3 linked regions of the Homo sapiens genome follow. The protein of the gene in region 1 purifies or fractionates together with the protein of each later gene. This does not show direct contact. Each region holds a gene or a part of one and is shown on either strand. Other genes may lie near its edges.

The links.
Region 2: the proteins of IRF2BP1 (region 1) and DCP1B purify together in Homo sapiens (affinity purification with mass spectrometry; 2 studies listed by BioGRID and IntAct, with this or other methods). This does not show direct contact.
Region 3: the proteins of IRF2BP1 (region 1) and VGLL4 purify together in Homo sapiens (affinity purification with mass spectrometry; 4 studies listed by BioGRID and IntAct, with this or other methods). This does not show direct contact.

The regions. Positions count from the first base shown.
Region 1 is NC_000019.10:45,883,061-45,890,291, forward strand, and holds IRF2BP1 (interferon regulatory factor 2-binding protein 1), read right to left. Parts: upstream 3,082-7,231; 5' UTR 2,715-3,081; coding exon 960-2,714; 3' UTR 548-959; downstream 1-547. UniProt on the Homo sapiens protein: Acts as a transcriptional corepressor in a IRF2-dependent manner; this repression is not mediated by histone deacetylase activities. May act as an E3 ligase towards JDP2, enhancing its polyubiquitination. Represses ATF2-dependent transcriptional activation.
Region 2 is NC_000012.12:1,945,465-1,952,476, forward strand, and holds the end of DCP1B (mRNA-decapping enzyme 1B), read right to left. Parts: coding exon 6,952-7,012; intron 3,871-6,951; coding exon 3,622-3,870; intron 823-3,621; coding exon 742-822; 3' UTR 589-741; downstream 1-588. UniProt on the Homo sapiens protein: May play a role in the degradation of mRNAs, both in normal mRNA turnover and in nonsense-mediated mRNA decay. May remove the 7-methyl guanine cap structure from mRNA molecules, yielding a 5'-phosphorylated mRNA fragment and 7m-GDP.
Region 3 is NC_000003.12:11,598,840-11,605,946, forward strand, and holds part of VGLL4 (transcription cofactor vestigial-like protein 4), read right to left. Parts: intron 5,743-7,107; exon of another isoform or gene 5,485-5,742; intron 3,184-5,484; coding exon 2,994-3,183; intron 1-2,993. UniProt on the Homo sapiens protein: May act as a specific coactivator for the mammalian TEFs.

The sequences.
Region 1 (7,231 bases):
ACGAGGGTGAGGAATCCAGCTGGGGCTTCCCAAACGTCCGCCTCTGGGGCACCGCCAGAGGCAAGAAGTAGCCAAGTTGTTTCTAGGCATCCTGTTAGTTTACCCCGTGGAGGTAAATTTCCTCTTTCCTCGGGCAGTCCCTCTAGCAGTCTACCCTAAATTCTCCCTTCTACCCGGCAAGAACCCACTGCCCATGTCTTCTAGGAAGCCTCCCGCTGCCTCTTTCCCCTCCCCACGTAGGCGCTGAGTCCTCCACCTTCCAGGTAGAGATAGGGGATGGGTCAGCTACAGAAGGGTAATCTACTCCCAAGCCTGTCTGTGGCTCCCCTGCAGGAGCCATCCCCTCTCTGAGCCTCAGTACTTTTATCTGGAAAACGGGCCGATGGCTGAAACGTGACCAGTGGGTCGCACTTGTTGAAGGTCGGCCGGCGGGACCGCCTGGGTGCAGGGCGCCACCTGGAGGCTACCGCGCAACGTCCTCGCCCTCGCAGGACCAGTTCAGTCCCAAAGGGGGCGCAGCATCTCACACAACTAAGGGACCAAGAAGGAAAAAAAAAACCCATCTTTCGGTTTATTGAAGGAGCAGAAGGGAGCGGGGGGTGGGGGGGTGGGAATTAAATGCTTTTGCCTCGTTTATAAAGAGCGAGTTTTCAGGAGGTCCCTTCTCAAGGAGGAGGGGGGCACCTCTCCCCCAACTACAAGCAGCAGCAAAGCCAAGCCAAGGAGGACAGAGGGAAACTGGAGGGGCCAAGGGACCCCAAACACCCCCTCGGACAGGAGCCACAAGCTTTCTCCCCCCACCCACAATGCATCTACCCCAGGGGACCCATCTGGGTGGAAGAAGGGAGTATGTACACAGATAGAGGTGGCACTGGGCTGGGTCGGGGAGGGAATAATTTATCCGCGGCAGCGGTGGGTGGCAAAGGGGCAGAGGGCAGTAGCCTGGAGGCAGTGGTAGCCTAGGGGTCCCGTTCTTTCTTAACTTTGATGTCTCCAGCAAGGATGGTGGCGATCTCGCCCTGCATGAAGGCCCAGGGCACGGAGGAGCCGACCAGCGGGCACTTGTCTCCGCTCGGGCAGTACACCTCCCCGGCCGGGCCCTGCGCCTTGATGAACTCCCGGGAGCAGGGAAAGCAGAACTTGTGTCCGGGCACCGAGGGGCACTGGACGAAGTGGGTGTCTTCTAGCCGCTCCCTGCACAGGGTACAGCACAGGGGGGCCCCAGGGGTCGCCCCAGTGCCGCTGCCACCCCCGCTGACAGCTTCGGCCCCCGCTGTGGGACTGACTTCTGCTTCGCCGTTGCGGGCCACAAGGCGATGCTGGGTTGGCGGCTGGGCCGTGGAGGAGGCTGCAGGGCTGGCGCCCCCTGCACGCACAGGCCCCCCGCCTCCGCCAGGGTCCTTGGGTGAGTGGCCCAGGGCTTCGGCCACATTCTTCAGGGCGGCAATGGGCGAGGGCACACCAGGGGTCTCAGCGGAGTACGGGCCGCCGGGTGCCACCCAGTGCCGTTGCTGCTGCTCCTCGGTGGTCATCTTCCCAGCCGCCTCGCCCTCCGGCTCGGGGGATGCCTTGCGACGGCGCGGCGTGGGCGCCAGGTTCCGGGATGGGGCTCGCGGGGGTGGGCCACAGAGAGCCGCAGGGGCCGGCTCTGGGTACTGCTGGGGCAGGGCCTCCGCGGGAGCTGGCTCGCGGAAGCTGCGGACGCCGTCGGTAAGCAGCTCGCCCAGCTGCCGCCATTCTCCTGATCCATGCCGGCGTTCATATTCGAGGTACTTGAAGCCCGAAGAAGCCAGTGCCTTGCCCGGCTCCCGCAGAGCATCGTGGAACATCTGGCGAGCCACTGCCAGGACGCCGGCGTACACATTGCCGGAACCACAGGGGTATTCGGTGAAGAGCTTCAGCTCGAACTCGTATCCTGGAGGACGGGCAGTAGCATCGAAGGCGAACACTCGCCCCACCAGCCCGTGATCCTTCTTGAAGCGCACATTGAACGGGGCGCAGGCGGACAGCGCCAGTAGCTGTTCCCGCACTGCTTTGGGGCGCCCGTGCCATTCCTCTGCCCGGCCTCGCATGGCCTCGTTCAGTTCTGCCAGACAGTCCGCATTCCTCTGCTGCTTCTCTTTCTCGAAATCGGAGCCGAAGAGGGGACGGGCAGGACTCAAGCCGGGTGCCAGCGTCAGGCCTCGGCTTCCCAGGCCAGACACTGCAGCTGCCAGCAGCCCAGGGGGCATCAAGCCAGGCATGGAGCCAAGCAAGGCCCTTCGCGCCCCCTCAGCCACGGCCTCCTCACGGCCCAGCCCATTGGCCAGGCGGGACCCCAGAGTGTACTCCAGGGCGGGCGAGGGCAGGGGGAGGCGGCCTGATGATGTGGCCCTGTCATAGCGGTCCTGGCCCGACACGCCGCCGCCGGTCCCTGACGGCTGGGGCTGGGCCTGCGGGGGCGGCAGCTGGGGCCCCTGTGCGGCTGCCGCCGCCAGGTCCTTGGTGGCCGGGTGCTTAAGGGCCGGGGGCCCGGGCGAGCGGCCCTCGGGGAGCACGTGGCTGCGCTTGAGCTGGCGGGCGGCATCGATGAGCAGTTCGATGCGGTCCGCGCCCTCGAAGTTCACGCAGCCGCGACACACGGCCTCGCTGAAGTCCCACACCATGGCCCACGGCATCTTGGGCAGGTCGCACAGGTAGCACCACTGGCGGCGGGACGCCTGCACAGACGCCATGGCCCCAGTCCGCGCGCCGCCCAGCTCCCGCGTTCCACCGGCCGCCGACGTGCGATCCGCGCCGCCAACGTTCGATCCGCGTCCCGGGGACAGCGCGAGCCACGGTCCGGCCTCCGGCTCGGCCTCCCCGCCGGATCCAGGCCCGGCCCCCCTTCCCCGCCCCCTGGGCCCTAAGCCTTTCTGCTCACTCCCGCCTCCCTCGCGAAGGCAGGCTGAGGCACGTCGGCGCCCCCGCCCGGTCCGGGCTCCGAGCCGAGGCGCACAGCTCGGGCCCCACGATGGGCCGCGAGCGCCGCCGCCTCGGGCTCCCGCCGCTCTCGCCGCCGCCGCTGCAACGGCCGCCGCCGCCTCCACCTCCTTCTTCTGCCCCAGAGGCCGCTTCGCAGGGAAAGTTACATAACACGCCTGCAAAGCCTTCTGGGAAACGTAGTCCCGCCGGGGCCGGCTCTTAAAGGGAACGGCGGGCAGACGCGGGCTGGGGGGGTTGTCGCCTCTGCCGGCGCAAACCTTACAACCTTCTCCGTGGGGCCGGAGTTCAGCGCGCCGCAAGATGCTGGGACACAAAGGTGGTAGGCGAGGATGCAATACAAATGATCAGAGCTACTCCGGATTCAGAAATTGTGGGGGTGGGTGGACAGGCTTCCGGGCTTCCAACTTCTGCTCGGATTTGCTGTGCAGCTTTAGGCAAAATGTCTTGCCCTCTCTGAACCTCAGTTTCCCCGCCCAGCAAAGGTGGGCCAATGACGGATTAGGAAAGTAGCAGCTTCTGGGGCGGGGCGGAGAAGCCCTGATTGGCTTCAGAGCAGGGACGGGAAGCTGGCAACTAGGTGGGGGTGGGGGTGGCCACCTGGCACTTCGTCCTCCCCCCGGAATCCTAGATATATGCTTCTGGGGCCCGCCACAGCCAGAGAAGGGAGAGGACTAAGGGCTTCCGAGCCAGAGCCTTGTCTCAGTTGTTTCTCTGCTAAAAGAGTGGGGCGACTGGCCGCCCTCTAACCCTGTCCCAGCTCTGCCCGCGCGCTCTGGTCTCTAAAGGGTTACACCATCGGGGGCTCGGCGTCCCCCACCCGCTTCACTACAATTCCCAAAATGCACTGCGGGTCGGACATAGTGACGCACTTCCGCCCTCTGGGAGGTTTGGGGAGGCCTTCCAGATTCACGCTACTTTCCCGGCTACCCCCCGCCCCCCCACTTTTCTGGGGGCTCTTTACGTGCATTCGGAGCGTGGCGTTTGGGGGACCCTTATCTTCTGTTGCTCCCCAGTTTGAGGGAAGAGTAAGGGGTTAAGAAGTGACGGGCAAGAGGAGGGAGTTGCTGGGGAAGGGCAAACACCAGACCAACCTTTCCCCAACCTTGAGCGCTCACTACCTGGAAGGCCCAATCAGGCTGTGAGGACCCTTCTTCTTTCCCAGGCATTGGGAACTGGACGAGGCTGTCTTTGGGGAAGGGCGGAGGCGGGTCTCCAGGTTCCAACCCACAACAGCCCCTTTCTCTAGGCCTGGGTCCGTGTTAGGTGCTCAAAAATATTTGAATGACGTACCAGTTGGCCCTGGTTTTGTCTAGTGAGGGGCTGCTTGTCCCTTCTCCTCCCGTCCCACTGGAACCGCAGCAGCTCTGATTCTGTTACCCAGACCTCACAATTTTAAAATGGTTTCACAATTTTGTCTACTACCTGTATTTGAACACTTTTCTCCCTTAAAAAAAAGATTTATCAGGCTGAAGTGGGAGGATTGCTTGAGCCTGGAGATAACAGGCTACAGTGAACCATGATTGCGTCACTGCACTCCAGCCTGGGCAACAGAGCAAGATCCTGTCTCAAAAAAATAAATAAAAATAAAAAGATTTATCTATTTTTGCCTCATCCTAGGTAATACGTTCACAATCATGGGTTTCATGTACTGTGGTTACCTTAAAAAAAATTAGTGAAAACTATCGACTCATTCAAGAGGACATTAATATGTCACTTAAAGTTGCCTTTGGGCTATTATTTACGAAACACTAATGGGAGTTAAGGCTTCTGGCCAGATTCAGCCTTCAGGTGGACTGGATTGGCCTCTGACCAGCTGTGGCCTTGGGCCAGTTTCTAAACTTCTTGGAAAAAATGGAGACCCCCTCCAGTCTCCTTTTATTTGGGTACCTTCAGATTGAATGCAAACATGCATATAAATGCTTAGCTTGGTGCCTGGCACAGAAAATAAGTGCCACAAATGGAAGTTGTTTTTAAGCTGGACAGTTATTCAAATATTCAACCCCTCTTCCATGCTGGGCAATGCTGGGGACATAGCAGTGACTGAGACAGGCTTTAAGCCTTGCCCCTGAGAAGCCCCAGCCTGGTGATGGAGGCAGATAGTAAATTTACTCAAATGATGAACTAAAATTTGTGATGACTGCGGTGGGGAATGTGTGTCAGGAAAAGCTTTCCTGGCCATAGTGGCTCATGCCTGTAATTCCAGCACTTTGGGAGGCCGAGGAGGGCGGATCACTTGAGGTCAGAAGTTTGAGACCAGACTGGCCAACATGGTGAAACCTTGTCTCTACTAAAAATTAAAAAATTAGGGGGCCGGGCGCGGTGGCTCACGCCTGTAATCCCAGCACTTTGGGAGGCCGAGGCAGGCAGATCACAAAGTCAGGAGATTGAGACCATCCTGGCTAACACGGTGAAACCCCGTCTCTACTAAAAATACAAAAAATTAGCCAGGTGTGGTGGTGGGCGCCTGTAGTCCCAGCTACTCGGGAGGCTGAGGCAGGAGAATGGTGTGAACCCGGAAGGTGGAGCTTGCAGTGAGCCAAGATCGAGCCACTGCACTCCAGCCTGGGCGACAGAGTGAGACTCCATCTCAAAAAATAAAAATAAAAAAAAAATAAATAAATAAAATTAGGCCGGACAGTGGCAGTGGCTCACATCTATAATCCCAGTACTTTGGGAGCCCTATCACTTGAGGTCAGGGGTTCGAGATCAGCCTGGCCAACACGGTGAAACCCCCATCTCTACTAAAAAGTACAAAAATTAGCCAGGTGTGGTGGCGCACACCTGTAATCCCAGCTACTCAGGAGGCTGAGGCAGGAGAATTCCATGAACCCAGGAGATGAGTTCACACCACTGCACCTCCAGCCTGGGGGACAGATGCAAGACTCCGTCTCAAAAAAAACCAAAAAACAACAACAAAAAAACAAAAAACTAACTAAATAAGTAAAAATACAAAAATTGGCCAGGTGTAGTGGCACACGCCTGTAGTCCCGGCTACTTGGGAGGCTGAGGCAGAAGAATCACTTGAACCCGAGAGGCAGAAGTTGCAGTGAGCCAAGACCGCGCCACTGCACTCCAGCCTGGGCGACAGAGGGAGACTCTACCTCAAAAAAAGAAAAAAAAAAAAGAAAAGTATAATCTAATTATAGGAAGAAAGACTCTGACATCTTTATGTCCATTCTACAGATGAGGACACTGGAAGCCAATGGTTACACAGTTGGCCAGGGCAGCACCAGTACTTGAGCCACGTCTTGAGTCCAGAGTGGTGGTGATTATCTACTTTGTTACCTGGCCCTGCAGCAGAGTAAAAGAACCAGTTCCTGCCTTCATGACATTATGGGCAAATGTGCCTTAAATAGATAAAGGCCTGTGTTCATTTAGAGTCACTATGAAAAAGAACCCAGCTGTGTGTGGTGGCTCATGCTTGTAATCCTAGCACTTTGGGAGGCCGAGGTGGGAGGACTGCCTGAGCCCATGAGTTCCAGATCAGCCTGGACATCATAGAAAACCCCATCTCTAGAAAAATAAAACAATTAGCTGAGCATGGTGGCACATGCCTGTGGTCCCAGCTACTTGGGAGGCTGAGGCAGAAGGATTGCTTCAGCCTGGGAGATCGAGGCTACAGTGAGTTGTGATCATGCCACTGCACTCCAGCTGGGGCAACAGAACGAGATCCTATCTCAAAAAAACGGAAAGAAAAGAAAAGAAAGGAAAAGAAAAAGAAAAAGAACCACAGGACACTGAAAGAGACTCTAAGAGGCAAACCCACGTTAGCCTTGGGGAAGGAATCTAGGACTTTCTCCTGGAGTTGACATTTAGACTGGTATCTAAAGGAAGAGTAGGAATAAGATTTCATGTAAACACAAGACTTGATGGCTTTAAGAATTAAAAAAAAAAAAAAGCTGGAAAACCACCAGCCTCCCAATTGCCTGCCTGTGGAGGGGGCGGGGCAGGTGTAGGTGCTGGTCCCCCAGGCCTGTCTCAGACAGAGCCTCAAGTAATTGTATTAAAAATAAGTTTATTGATATCTTGTCACCACTGGGAGAAAGGAGGGGGTTGAGCTCTGGAAGTCAGAGACAGCAATGGTAGGCAGAGAACCCAACCTGTACCTCTCCCATCAGAACTCGGCGCCTCCTCTCCCTGGGGTATACACGGCTATATCCTCTTTGTCATCCGTATTTTGATTTGTCTTACAACTCCCACCCGCTCCAAAGTCTGGGTTGGGGAGGTGGGGAGTCCCCCACGGGTCAATTCTCTTCAAGTCAAGAAC
Region 2 (7,012 bases), on another chromosome or scaffold:
ATAACTAGGTATATACCCGAAGGATTATAACTCTACTTATTACTGGGTATATACCCAAAGGATTGTAACTCTACTATAATCAAAGGATTATCATTCCACTATCAAGACACATGCACACGTATGTTTATTGCAGCACTATTCACAATAGCAAAGACTTGGAACCAACCCAAATGTCCATTAATGATAGACTGGATAAAGAAAATACGGCATATATACACCCAGGGAATACTATGCAGCCATAAAAAAGAATGAGTTCTTGTCCTTTGCAGGGGCATGGATGAAGCTGGAAACCATCATTCTCAGCAAACTAACAAAGTAACAGAAAACCAAACACCACATGTTCTCACTCACAGGTGGGAATTGAACAATGAGAACACACGGACATAGGGAGGGGAACATCACACACTGGGGTCTGTCGCGGGGTGGGGGACTAGGGGAGGAAGCGCGTTAGGAGAAATACTAATGTAGATGATGGGTTGATGGGTGCAGCAAACCACCATGGCATGTGTATACCTATGTAACAAACCTGCATGTTCTGTACATGTACCCCAGAACTTAAAGTATAATAATAATTAAAAAACACTTGAGTATAAAAAAAAGTCTGAAACATTTTACTTCATATTACACATACTTTTTTTTTAAAAAAGGCAGAAACATTGAAGGAAACAACACTCAACATGAAAGAACCTTGTGCCGGAGTTCTAGAAGGACCTTGAAAATCAGTTTTAAAAGGCCTTGCTGTCACATAGTCTTTTTCATGGCTGCTTGAGTCATGCTGAAGAGATAGGCTTCATAGATTATATTTAAGAAGTTGTCATCATTCTGGAAAACAAATCGAAAGACCCAAGAGAATGTTACTTGGTTGGCAGACACAAAAGGCTTCCTCTGTCTTAGAGCTGAACTGGCCTTTGGATACTGAGACACTCATCTCTCCCTGTCTAACAGCTGGTGGTTTTTAATTGCATGTGTGAATGTTAAGTGGGGTTGACGGCAAGGCCGGACAGAGCTGATGGTTTTCCATGGTCAGTATGCACAGCAGCAAGAGCTCATTACATGCAGCACAGATGGGCAGCCCAGACACATGGCAGCATGGAGCAAGGTTTACTCAAGAACAGCCTGGGTCTGCTGCATGAAAAGACATGAAGCCCCAGCAGACAGAGGAGTTAGGAGGACATGATCCAAGTCAGTGGTCTCAAAGTTTGGTTAAGAGATTGCTGTGGTGTGTTTTTTTGTTTCTTGTTTTTTGGGTTTTTGAGACTGGGTCTCACTCTGTCACCCAAGCTAAAGTGCAGTAGTGCCATCATAGCTCACTGCAGCCTCAACCTCATGGGTTCAAGCGATCCTCCCACCTCAGCCTCCAGAGTAGCTAGGGCTACAGGTGCGTGCTACCATGCCTGGCTTTTAAGTTTTTTGTTAAGACAGGGTCTCACTATGTTGCTCAGGGTGGTCTTGAACTCCTGGGCTCAAGTGAGCCTCCCACTTTGGCCTCCCCAAGTGTTGGATTACAGGCATGAGCCACTGTGGTTCTTAAAGGCCCTCCAAGTCACCTACAATGTGTCTGCTTTGTTTTGGGCATTACTTAGGATTTTACTTGCAATATGCTTCATCAGTACTTCATCAAAGCTAATATAAGTCTTCCCATAAGTTATGGAAAGTTTCTAGCCTTGGCAAGTGGGCAGGAGTAAGACTGGTAATCTCTGGGCTCTTTTGCCTGGCTAAGGAGTGAGAATCACGGTCTAATCAGTGGTTTTCCTCATGTTTTAATTCTAGAGACTTCTCCCTCCCACCCAAATTCTTTACAGTGTTAGTAATTCACCCACACTTCACATTCCCCCTTCATTCCCTCTTGGCACCCCACACAGATTTAGCATCATTCTCATGCAATGAAGAGAGTGATGTTATCCCTCTTTTTCCTGCAAAGTAGTCACAAAGTTCCTCTGCATGAGATTGTGTCCTAACAAGAGGCAGAAACTAAAAACAGACTGCTTGAGTGACTGGGAATATGAGGTGTGGTACACGGGAAGAAGTAAAATGCACGCAGAGTGGAGGGCAGGGGAATGTAATTTCTAATCCGCCATGTTCAGCCACTACTCTGGAGTAGAGTCTCAAGACAATGTGAAGGGAATCAGCCAGAAAACATATGGATCTTTTAAATTACAACTTAAGAAACTGGCTCAAAGTAAAGAGGTTCACAGATGTCTAATTCCTCCTGAGCTTACTATGAATAGCTTTAAAAGGTGGCAAATATTTTTATCCTGATATTTACTTATGAATTAGTAGGGCTCAATCATTTGCTGTTGACCTTATTTATCTCTGATTGTTATTATGCTTCTGCTGACTTCTAGCCCCATTCCTTTCATTCTTCCTCAAACATGTTTCCTTCTTTTGTAGTCTCGCTATGTTGCTCAGGCTGGTCTTGAACTCCTGGCCTCAAGCAATGCTCCCACCTTGGCTTCCCAAAGTGCTGGGATTACAGGCGTGAGCAGCCACTGTGCCCGGCCAACATGGAACCTTTTTAAAAATGTTGTACTAATTGAGACCACTGTCTTTTTAAGTAGGATAAGACAACCGCAGAAGGGCTGGCCTGCTCTCTAAAGGCCGTCTGATGCTTAAGCAAAGTACCACACAAGTTTTCTTAAAGATTATCTACCAAAAAGACACCTAAATATGTTAACTGGGGTGTCTGAAGTCTGTCTGGCTACAAATGTTCCACTTTTCAAGGACTGCCGTTGATTTCTTGGGTGTGCTTTGCTAGGGCACCTGTGCTGAATGTTCTCCCGAGGCTGGTCCCTGCCAACATTCATGTGGTGAACGTGGCCCACGGGAGAGTACGTGGGAAGTGGCACTCGGGGGCCAGGCTGGGTGCATCCCAGCCCTGCTTATGTACGAGCTCCGTGCCTCAGGCCAGTTGCTCAGCCTCAGTTTCCTTGTCTGTAGAATGGGAAAAATAACAGGGTTGTTATGTAAGGAGTGAATGAGTTATATGCTTGTGTGTAGCACTGAAAATAGGGCCCGGCGCCAGCTCTGTGGAGTGTTAGCTATTATAGCACTCATTATTATTTCATAATTTCATAGGCAAGTGAGGCTAGCAGCTCACAAGGAGTCCTGTCACTCCATCCCGTCCTAATGAGCAGGTTTCAAAATGACTTGTAAAACATACCTGTAGCAGCCATGGCCATTATTTGCTTCCCTCCCTGTTTTCCACTCGCTCAGTGGCCTCTTCCCCACTCAACAGATGGCCCCTTGCCCAGGACTGCTCCCACCTCTACCTCCCAATGGTGAGTTTTCTGTCTGGGCCTCCAGCACCCAGGGTCCTCTCAGGGACTGCTTAATCCCCAGCATATGCTTCCTTCTCTTCTGACAGGTGACAGCTTGGAGGCCTTAGACAGTCCTTCAAATTACAAAATCCTTGAAGAGCTGAGACACCCAAGCCACACTTGGTATTATAAATAACACCTAGCTAACTGAGCACAGAAGCCGCTGGGGTCAGGATGAGTTGTTACACACACCTGTTATTCTCACGGAAGCTAAGCAGGCCTTGGCTGAGTCTTTATCTCATAGTTGCAGCCAGGAGGCCAACAGGCGTGGTCAGGTGCGAAGGGAGATGACGTGCTTGCTTACCTGAATGAGGTACAGCAGTGCCTCCTGGAGCTGGAGCTTGGTGAGTGGGCTGCTGGTGATCACGGAGGGCTCCGGGCTCTGTATGGGCAGGAGGAGGCTGGTGGCAGCAGCAGGTGGCTCCTGGCCTCCCACAGGCAAGAGGCCGCTCTCCCTTTCCTTTGGCGGGACGGAGGTGGGTTGTGCGAACACCATGGGGGACATAAGCAGAGACGGAGCTGCTGTAGCAGGGATGCGCTGAGGTGAGATGACCTGCTCACAGCAAATACACACAGAGAGCGGGGTTCAGGAGCAGCTCACGGCATGATAGCTTGCAGCGGCAGATACGGGTGGTCTAAGCATTCCCTGTCCACAGCTTTCCTAGCTGAGAAAAGTTTATGGGAAACTGATTCTTGCTCCACTGCTCCATGCACCTTCCTTCAGCATCACTGAGCAGCTCTGGTATCGTCTGCTGTGGGGACTATTCTTTCCACTGCATATGCAGCTTGGCCTCTGGGTGACAGCTTATTTTTCAGGCTACCAGTATTTGGCAAGTGCATTTAGGACTACTGACCTTTTCCTTAGACCTGGTTGTCCATGACCCTGACCTAAAGGTCTCACAACCTATGTGAGCTGCCACCCTTGTTAGGGGCCTCCCCATTTCCCCTCCTGACCCCGGAGCACAGGAGGCGCTGTGAGAGCAACTCCCCGCCCCTCCTGCGGCCTCACTCACTTCTCGTGGGGAGGGAGAGTGATGTGTGGGTCCACCCCTTCTGGGTCCTTCCCTGACAGGATCTGCCTGCCTGCAGAGAGCCCTCATCTTCAGCTTCCGCAGCTGATGTGTTTGGGCTGACCCGGGCGGCCTGTTGCTCAGCCCTGCCAGAGCCTGTCTGCTGAGTCTAACTCCCTTGGCAAACAGACCTGAAACCAAGTTTTCTAACAGCCCTTTCAGTTATGCAAGTGACATTTTGATCCTTATCTGACTGACTCCTACAGCTATCATTTGCTTCTAACTCAGGGAAGAAAAAGAATGTTATTTATCAGCCTCCGAACTCCCCGAAAGAACTCCTAAGAGGGAGGCAAGGAGGCCAGCAAGCTAGAAGTTGCTGTAATTTTATAATCAATCCCTTAGCGTCTCTTTGAGCAAAAGTTGGCCTAGAGGAAGGCAGGCTGTTTCTTTTAACTTGTCCCTACATGACATTTCGAGGAGCGGTGCTGAGCAGTGATGCTCCCGGAGGTGGAGTCAAGCATTCTGAGCACAGCGTGGGCTGCTGAAATGCTTGCCTTTCTCACTCGGCTCTTGATATTTGTGAGTACTGAAAAGTCAAGGGAGTTGTACATCAGAAATTTAAGTCAGACTATATTCATCGCATGCTTCTAATTCTAAATCATCAAAGAGGAAAAAAGCAGACATTTTTAAAAAAGGGACAATAACACTGAAATGAGGGGGAGTGGGAGTTATAAATATTGTTTCTATAGCAGTCGGTACTCAGATTTGGGATGTTAATAAATAATAAATGAGAACACTTTGACTCAGGGGCTCACAAAGACTTTTGGCACATGCCTAAGGTCTTTGTTTTCAAAAAACTGAATTTTTTGTTTTGAGACAAGGTCTCACTCTACTGCCCAGGCTGGAGTGCAGTGGTGCAAACATGGCTGACTGCAGCCTCAACTTCTTGGGCTCAAGCAATCTTCCCACTTCAGCCTCCCAAGTAGCTGGGACCACAGTGGCATGCCACCATACCCGGCTAATTAAAAACAAAAAATTCTTGTAGAGACAGGGTCTATGTTGCCCAGGCTGGTCTGAAACTCCTAGGTTCAAGCGATTCTCCTATCTTAACCTCCAAAGTGCTGGGATTACAGGCACGAGTCACCATGCCCAGCCAAAAGTTCAAGATTTTTGAGAAACTGTTATAAGTTACATAACAGGCCAGGTGCAGTGGCTCACGACTGTAATCCCAGCACTCTGAGAGCCCGAGGTGGGTGGATCACCTGAGGTCAGAAGTTCGAGACCAGCCAGGCCAACATCGTGACACCTCGTCTCTACTAAAAAAATACAAAAAATTAGCCAGGTGTGGTGGCAGGTGCCTGTAATCCCTGCTACTCAGGAGGCTGAGGCAGCAGAATCGCCTGAACCCGGGAGGTGGAGGTTGCAGTGAGCCGAGATCGCACCATTGTACTCCAGCCTGGGCGACAAGAGTGAAACTCTGTCTCAAAAAACAAAAAAAGGTACATAACAAAACATGACAAAGGGCCAGTGATGATATATGTGATACACAGGGAGAACTTTCCAATTTTTAAACCCAATGTACTTTCAATGAATGTGTTCCAATCCAAAGGGAAAACAATTCAATGTCAGATCTCCAGATGTTACCCACAGGCAGATGATCAATAGCTTGTGGTTTCCTCACTGTCCCAAGTCAGTGATGGACATGGAAAAGCATCTTCTCTAAAGGAGAGAATCTTTCTAAAAACTGTCATATTTTCCCTCTCTGGCAGTTTGTGTGGGGGGTGGAGGTGGGTGGCATGCATACCTCTCCTGATCTACAGTAGGCTATACTGACGATACAGAGAAAGATAAAAACTGGCTGCACCTTTCAGGAGGAAATAGGCTGTTTTTTGTTTATTTCAAGAACCTACAGCATGGGCTGTGGGTAAGGAGTCTGTTTTCTTCATCATTATGTACCCACATGTAGACAATGCCTGACATGTAGTAAGTGCTCAAAAATATTTACTAAATAAGTGAATAATTTACTGTGGACTGAAAAACAAGAGGAGGTCAGTTGCTTGGCATTCCAGATTGATTTCAAGGCAGACCATACTAAGTTCCTACAGTCAAAAATTACGGTTTTCTCCCATGTCTGTGTTGGTCTTCAGACCTCCTAATATAACGAAGATTTAACTCTACAAGTAATGCTCTCAAAAAGGTTGGGGGAAGTTCTCAGATTGTTAACCAAAGTGAAGATTCTCCTTCCAGGTAGAAAGTTCAGGCAATCAAGATGCACGGAGGTGCACCCTGCTCCAAACAGAAATGTACGTGACACATTGGTCCCTAGAGCATGGAAGTGGACTCTACATTTCACTGCATTATAGTAATACCTTTTTCTTTGTCTGTCTTTTTTTTTCTTAACAGACAGGGTCTCGCTCTGTCACCCAGGCTGGAGTGCAGTGGCACGATCATGGTTCACTGTAACCTCCGCCTCTTGAGCTCAAGGGATCCTCCCACCTCAGCCTCCTCAGTAGCTGGTGCTATAGGCGTGTGACACCAAGCCTGGCTACTTTTTTTTTTTTTTTAGGGACAGGATCTTGCTATGCTGCCCAGGCTGTTTTATTTTGCCCCTGGTACATATTTACCTGGAAAAGAGGAGTCTGCTGTTCTGTGTTGGGTGTCTTGTTGATCCAGGATTCCAAGGGT
Region 3 (7,107 bases), on another chromosome or scaffold:
TTTAGTGATAAAATACATCACATTTTCATTACATGTTATTAACAAACTCTAAGAAGATAAAGCACAAAAACCATTTTGTAATCTCCTTAAAGAGATACACTAGGCTATTCCTTTTCAAATAATTATGAATCTGTCATTTATTGCAGATAACTTCTTAGGCATTAAATATAAAGGAGGGAGCATGCTATAGCCCAAATAGGAAACATTTCATCAAACAGCAGCACTAAATACCCTACAACACGAAGAAGTAAGACAGGCAGCATCTTTCCAATCTGCCTGTGAAATCTGTCATTAGGCTCTTAGAAAACACAGTACAAACAATGGTAATGTTACTAAAATAACTATCACACAGTAAACAAGTAACACTCAGAAGGACCTAACCACACGCCAATCGCCTTTCCTCCTTACACTGTACACTTAAGAAAATACATTTTATAATATATATATTTTTTACCACAATAAAAGAAAAATGAGGGGGGAGTCACCTGGCTGGTGTAAGGGAGTCTGAGAGAGGAGGTTACTCCTGTTTCTATTTTCCTAAAACTTTGCATAATAATGTCAATTGTGATTTGCACATAAAATTTGGCGATTCTATTATTTACACTTAAAATTATTTATAGTGTCATCACAGACCCGTACCTCAAAGTCTTATTTTTAGCCACCAAGAGAGCTACAAAATTATTTTCTTTTTTTTTTTTGAGACAGAGTCTCGCTCTGTCACCCAGGCTGAGTGCAGTGGCGCGATCTCGGCTCACTGCAAGCTCTGCCTCCAAGGTTCAAGTGATTCTCATGCCTCAGCCTCCCGAGTAGCTGGGATGACAGGCATGCACCACCACACCCAGCTAGTTTTTTGTAATTTTAGTAGAGACAGGGTTTTGCCATGTTGCCTAGGCTGGTCTCGAACTCCTGGCCTCAGGTGATCCACCCACCTTGGCCTCCCAAAGTGCCAGGATTACAGGTGTGTGAGCCACTGCGCCTAGCCACAAAATTATTTTCTGAACATTTTAATATTCTAATAATAATATTAACAATGACTAAAGCTGAGTACTTACTATCTGCCAGGCACCATTCTTAAGTCCTTACAATAATCCTATGAGGAAGGAATTAATATTATCTGTGATGAAAGATAAAGAAAGTGGGAATTGAACCCAGGCATTTTGATTAAAAGGCACATACTATCAAACATTAAATCCACCATATATACATATGTATATTTTCTTACTCTCTATCATCATAACCAGTATCTGAACAATGGAATAAAAATAACAACCCCCATCAACAAAGTGCTATACCATGCCAAGCTCTTTGCATATTTTAACTCTAGTCCTCGTAATAGCTCTATACATTAACTATTATCATTGTCATTGTCATTGTCCAATGACAAGGATATCACTGTCAAGGATACTGGGCCCAGCTAAATTAAGTGACTTGTCCAAAGCCTCACAGCTGTTGTGTGGCAGAATCAGGATTTAAATTAAGGCATGTTTGTCTGCAGGCTGCCTTCCCCTTTCTTACTTATGAAAAGAAAAAGAAAAAAAAAAAAAGACCAAATGTTCTTATTTGGGTTTGGGAAAAGCAGATGGGAAAGTATAAGAAATTCGTGGGAATAAAAGAATGAACTGCAAGAGCTGAGCACCCAGGAGTTAAGCTAGCCCTGCCTGCGGAGTGCACTGTTTGCAGGGCCTTCCTGCTGGATTCCTGATGGTAGCAAATTCCAGGGCTCCAGACTGCAGGCTCAGCCTCTGACTAACACTGCAGTGATTTATTTGAGGATAAATACCTCTGTCAGTGTCTTATGACTGAACACAACAGTCCAAGCTGACTGGAACGAGCGGAATGCGAGGACGCTGGAGCTGAGGCAGTAGAGGCGGGAGCTGGGCCACCTCTCTGCGGAAACTCTGCCTCCAAGGAGGAGCCCTCACAGGAAGGTATTCCTGTGGGGAAAAAGCAGTGCCCTCAGGAATTGGAGCATCTTGAATAATGAGGAAACACTGACTCATGCTAGAGTGAGCGCTTGGGAAGGGGGAAGGAGGAGGACCTCTGTACCTGCACACACAAAGCTACTCCCTCCAATACTCAGTGCAACCTTGCCAGGATTGGCAAGATAACTCCAAGAACACCAACCGCCCTCACCACTGTACCCGTAGACTCTCTGGGCAGCTGGTGGGGCGTCTCCAAGTCCTGAAAACTGGGGAGAAGCCTCTCCCTCTGCGAGGAGGGTGTGTGCCGAGAGGAGAGTGCAAAGGGGAGAAGCCGGGTGCACGGAAGCGGGAGGCTTTTCCAGTGGAAACATGGTGACGTTGCACAGATTCAGGGATCTGTGGTTTCAGCCCGTGTTTCACAAATAACAAAACTGAGGCCCAAAGAGTTGAAGCAATTCATGTCAAGAAGGTAGACAGTGTCAGTGGCAGATCAAGGACTGGCTGGATGTGGTGAGTGGCACCTTGTCATGAGCATAGGAAGCTGGCTTCCCTTTATGGGAAGGTCCCAAGTTTGTACCAGGGGCACATAAGGTGGGATGAACACTTCTTCGTGTGTACAATCCTAGACTCCTGAGTAAGAACTTTACAGACGTCTGCTTGGTCAAAAAGGTGCTGAGCTTCCCTTCTATTTGTCTGGTGCACAGTGACATTCACTAAATGTTGATTCTCCTAAAAACAATCAATATGTATGGGCAAAAAAAAGCGAAGCTTAGCAGATGACTACTCGACTGCTCGCAGAAGCTCTAAGGGGACATTAACTTCTATGGAGTTTAACATGCGGAAGGTCCTACAAGTAGGCTGGAGGGAAGCCAGACTTCCACCTCACCGCGAGTTATCAAAATGAGTTTACTACCTTCTTTTTGGCAGATGAATACTATTTTTCTTTTGTAAATAATATCCTTTTCAAATAAAGTATGCAAATGATAACATCAGAATTAGCACAAAGTTGCAAAACAAATAAGGCCCCAGCACGGAGCACCCTTAAGCCAAAATAAGAACAGAGGAACTCACAGATGGGGGTTGAAGATGCGACTCATTTTGGAGACGTGGTCGTTGTCACAGTCTAGGTCCTCGTCACCTGGCTCCATGCTGAACTTCCTCTTGCTGGGGCTGATTGGGGGAGGGCCGGTGCGGTGACTGCTGAGGGCAGAGGCCACCGGCAGGGTCTGTATTCTGGGTTCTCCCCTGAGAGCAGCTTCGCCTACGCAGAGAGAGATGATGTAGTCACTAAGCAGGAGAAAGGCCCCCATCTCAGTCCCCCAGGCTCCCCGCCCGCCCAGCCAGCCCCTTACAAAACTACTCCCAGTGGAAAGTTTTTGGCAATGGGACGGGGCCGCCTGCCATCCTCTGAACATGGTTTGAGTGTGGTTAGCTGCCAACCATGAGACATTTTACATCAACGTGGTTTTCTAGCACAGTCACTCTTTAGGGTAGAGTTTAAAATAAAAAGTTGCAATAAAATAGCAGGGGGGAGGCAAAAAGCATTTTCTGTAAACAATTTCAAAAGTTAATTTAAAACACCAAAGGTCTTTTCACGTGTGGGTATTCCACTCGATACAGATAGGAGAATGACCTCACTGCATTCATGAAACCACTATGCCCAACTCACTTTTCCTGCTTGTTCTGTTTTTTTTTTCTAATATAGTCTTGGTATTTAATTTCTTTTAAAAGAATGAGGAAAGTGTGTGGGCTAACAGTTCACACATTTGTACCGAAAGTTAAAAGAAATATAAATACATCGTTTAATGGGAAATAAATGTTTAATTCTTACAGTACGCTAAATATTGCACATTAAAATATTATCAGCACAAAGCTTCGGCATATAACTTATCGCAAGCATAATACGTGGGTAGGTGCAGTTCTGAAACATGTTTCGAAGTTAGGCAATCAAATTAGGGTCCACATTTCCATTTGATTTGACATCTTGGCGTTTTTCATTATTATTTTAAAAGGTTTTGTACTAGGCAATCACTTTGTGCCTCGCTGTGAATTAAAATAAGCATAGCCTTTCATAGTAATAAAGCTTGTGTACCTTCTAAACTTTATAAAGACGAATGATTACTTTAAGAGAAAACTTCAAACTTTCTAAGTCACATGGGGGGAGCACCTAAATTTTTCACAAATAATAACCCTTTTGTTGTGCTGTACATTTTGGTCTCTCGGACCTGACCAATTTTCTTTCCATTTGGTCACAATTTGAGAGTAATACGAGGATAAAGTCAACTTCATCCGAGGCCTTGTGGTACCTAAGAAAAGGAATCTTTGTTTGCCACCACTAATTTTCATATCATCACAGATGTGTGGACAGTGTTAACAGTCATTTACTTCATACACATATGACAAATATGATTTTGTTGGAGAAAGGAGTGAGGAAAAACCCTCTGAATATTTACCAGGAAAAATAAAAACTTGGCCAATTTACTCAGCAAGATATAAACTAGCAAATATACAGTGACCCATAATACACCTCCAGCCAGGATTTCTTTTAAGGATTCTGGCCCCAAAGCAAACTGGAACTTTCCATTTTAAATGAGATACCTAAAACACAGGCCTCACGCTGGCCTGCCACACTCAGAAATTCAGTATGATCTTGGTTGGCCTATACTCCCTATTTAGTAATTTTCATTTTAAAAAACAAAAAAAGCAGTGCTCATCTTTATACCTTCATAAATTAGAAAAATATCCTTTCTAATTATCTCCGTTATTTGTGATACTTCCTCCTCCACAAAGAGAGAAGAGGGTGTTTCCAAGGGAAAGCTTCAGAAGCCCAAGCCCAGCTAACTTTCTGGGAAGCCCTGATGATACCCCCAGGAACGCAGCAACTGCAAATCAAACCTCATCAAAATGGCACCAGCTGACCCTCCTCTCCACCCAGGGTTTCTCAACACCCCTGGCAGGATGCGAGGGGATGAGGAGTCCTCGGGCTTGGACCCCCGAACTGTGGTCATCATTTCATCAGATGCCAGCTGTGTAGCAACAAGAGTTGCTATGGAAAACAACCACTACAGCAACAGACTGAAATCACTCCAAAAAAGGAGCCGTCACTCATTCCACCAGCATACACTGTGACGCGGAAAGCAAAACCCTTGGGTTAAGAACAACATTCCCACTCCCCTCCCCAGTTTCCATCCTAGTAAAAATTCTCGTGCTTGTTTGCATTTTTAAGTTCATCCAACGGATGCAGTGCTTATCTTTAAGACTGAATCACTGATGTCTAACATCGAAAAAAATTCCACAAGAATCCTCAGAAAACACTGGAGATTTCTAACCCACGGGTGGGGGTGGGACCAGGGCTGGGGCTACAGGCCCCATGAAGGCACTCCAGGTGTCCTTCACCAGGGACTGTGACAGACGCCTCCACCAGGTCCCGGGGAGACGGTGGTAAATGCGTGCTGTAGTACTTCAGCATCTCAGCTTGCCGGCGCCGGAAGGAGCCCAGGAAGCACGGTTTGCCTCATTTGATGGATGACGAAGCTGTGCCCCAAAACATAGCGTGACTTACCCAAGATCCTCCAGTTAACAGGTTAGCTGGAGGCAAGAACCCATGGCCTCTGCAATCAGACAACGCCTCATCCTAAGACTGTGCAGCCTCACACAAGGCTTACAGCAAAGGAAAAGAATCCGCACATAAGGTCAGGGACAGGTCCGTTCAGTTATGTGCCTTTATGCATCTTTGGGGCCCCTCCCTAGATGGCCTTAACCCAACACTTGTATGTTAGACAAGAGTGGTAACTGTTGTATGTGTGGTGGGGTTAAAATTATTTTTGTAAAACTGAAGCAGACATTTGTTCTGGGAGATAAGACACTTGCATTGCAATCTTGACTCCTCCTTTATTTAGGATGGGGTGAATTTGGGCACGTGCTTCCCCTCTCTGGGCCTCCCTCCATACAACAAGGGGCTGGACTAGCTAATGTGTCATGTTCTTTCCAGCTCTTAGAATTACTGATGCAATTCTATGATCAACAAGTGACCAACCAACTAACCAACATTTACAAAGAAATTGCTACTTGTGTAATGGTGAACTAAGACAGCAAAACTCAAGGTATGTACCTCAGATGTTATTCATCGAAAAAAACAAGGGTGACCCTGGGGTCAAATAAATTTGGAAACCGTGAGATTGAACAACTTTTACAGGAGTTTAACTACAGGCCTTTCTGTCTTCTAATGCATCTCAGTCTCTGAGATGGAAACCCCGCAGGGCTGCTTTCCATCGCCCGCCACGCCCCCGCCCACCCCCAATCCTCCACAGCTCTGTGAATTCCATCTTCCAAAGCGCCCCCACGCCCACCCCCCACCCCCAATCCTCCACAGCTCTGTGAATTCCATCTTCCAAAGCGCCCCACGCCCCCGCCCACCCCCAATCCTCCACAGCTCTGTGAATTCCATCTTCCAAAGCGCCCCCACGCCCACCCCCCACCCCCAATCCTCCACAGCTCTGTGAATTCCATCTTCCAAAGCGCCCCCACGCCCACCCCCCACCCCCAATCCTCCACAGCTCTGTGAATTCCATCTTCCAAAGCGCCATTCTCAGCATGTTGGCCCATCCTCACCCCAGATATCCAGTGACTGCAGACTTCTTCTGCATTCGAAACCCCAACTGCCTTTCTCATTTTTATTCCTAGTATTCCTCTTTATGAGCCCTGAAAATTTCAGCCCAGTAAGTTAAACTAGACTCATCACCATTCCACAGAGAACTTGTTCTTCCCCCAATCTTCTCATTTAAGTTCATACATCCTGCAAAACCACTTAAAATGCCTCCTCCATCAGGCTGTCCTCCTTGATTCCTCCAGCTGAAGGTCATCTCCTCTTCCTCTGAACATCTATAGAAACTTATCACTCTGGTGCTTCCCTCCCTACTTTATTTTGTGCTCCTGGAAGCAGGTGGCATTTAATTCATTTAATAAACCTGACAGTGCAGAGCACAACTGACCTACTGAATCAATGAGGCAAGGTGACAGGGTGGGCAGTTTACAGAGCTTTAGGATATGTTAAAGATCAAAGATGTTATAGAATAAGGAGTGTTTAAAGATCTATTTAAAAATATAAGAACTCTTACAACAATTAAAAAGATAACAAAAAATAGAAAAGGATCTAAATAGGCATTTCCGAAGAGAAGATATGAAA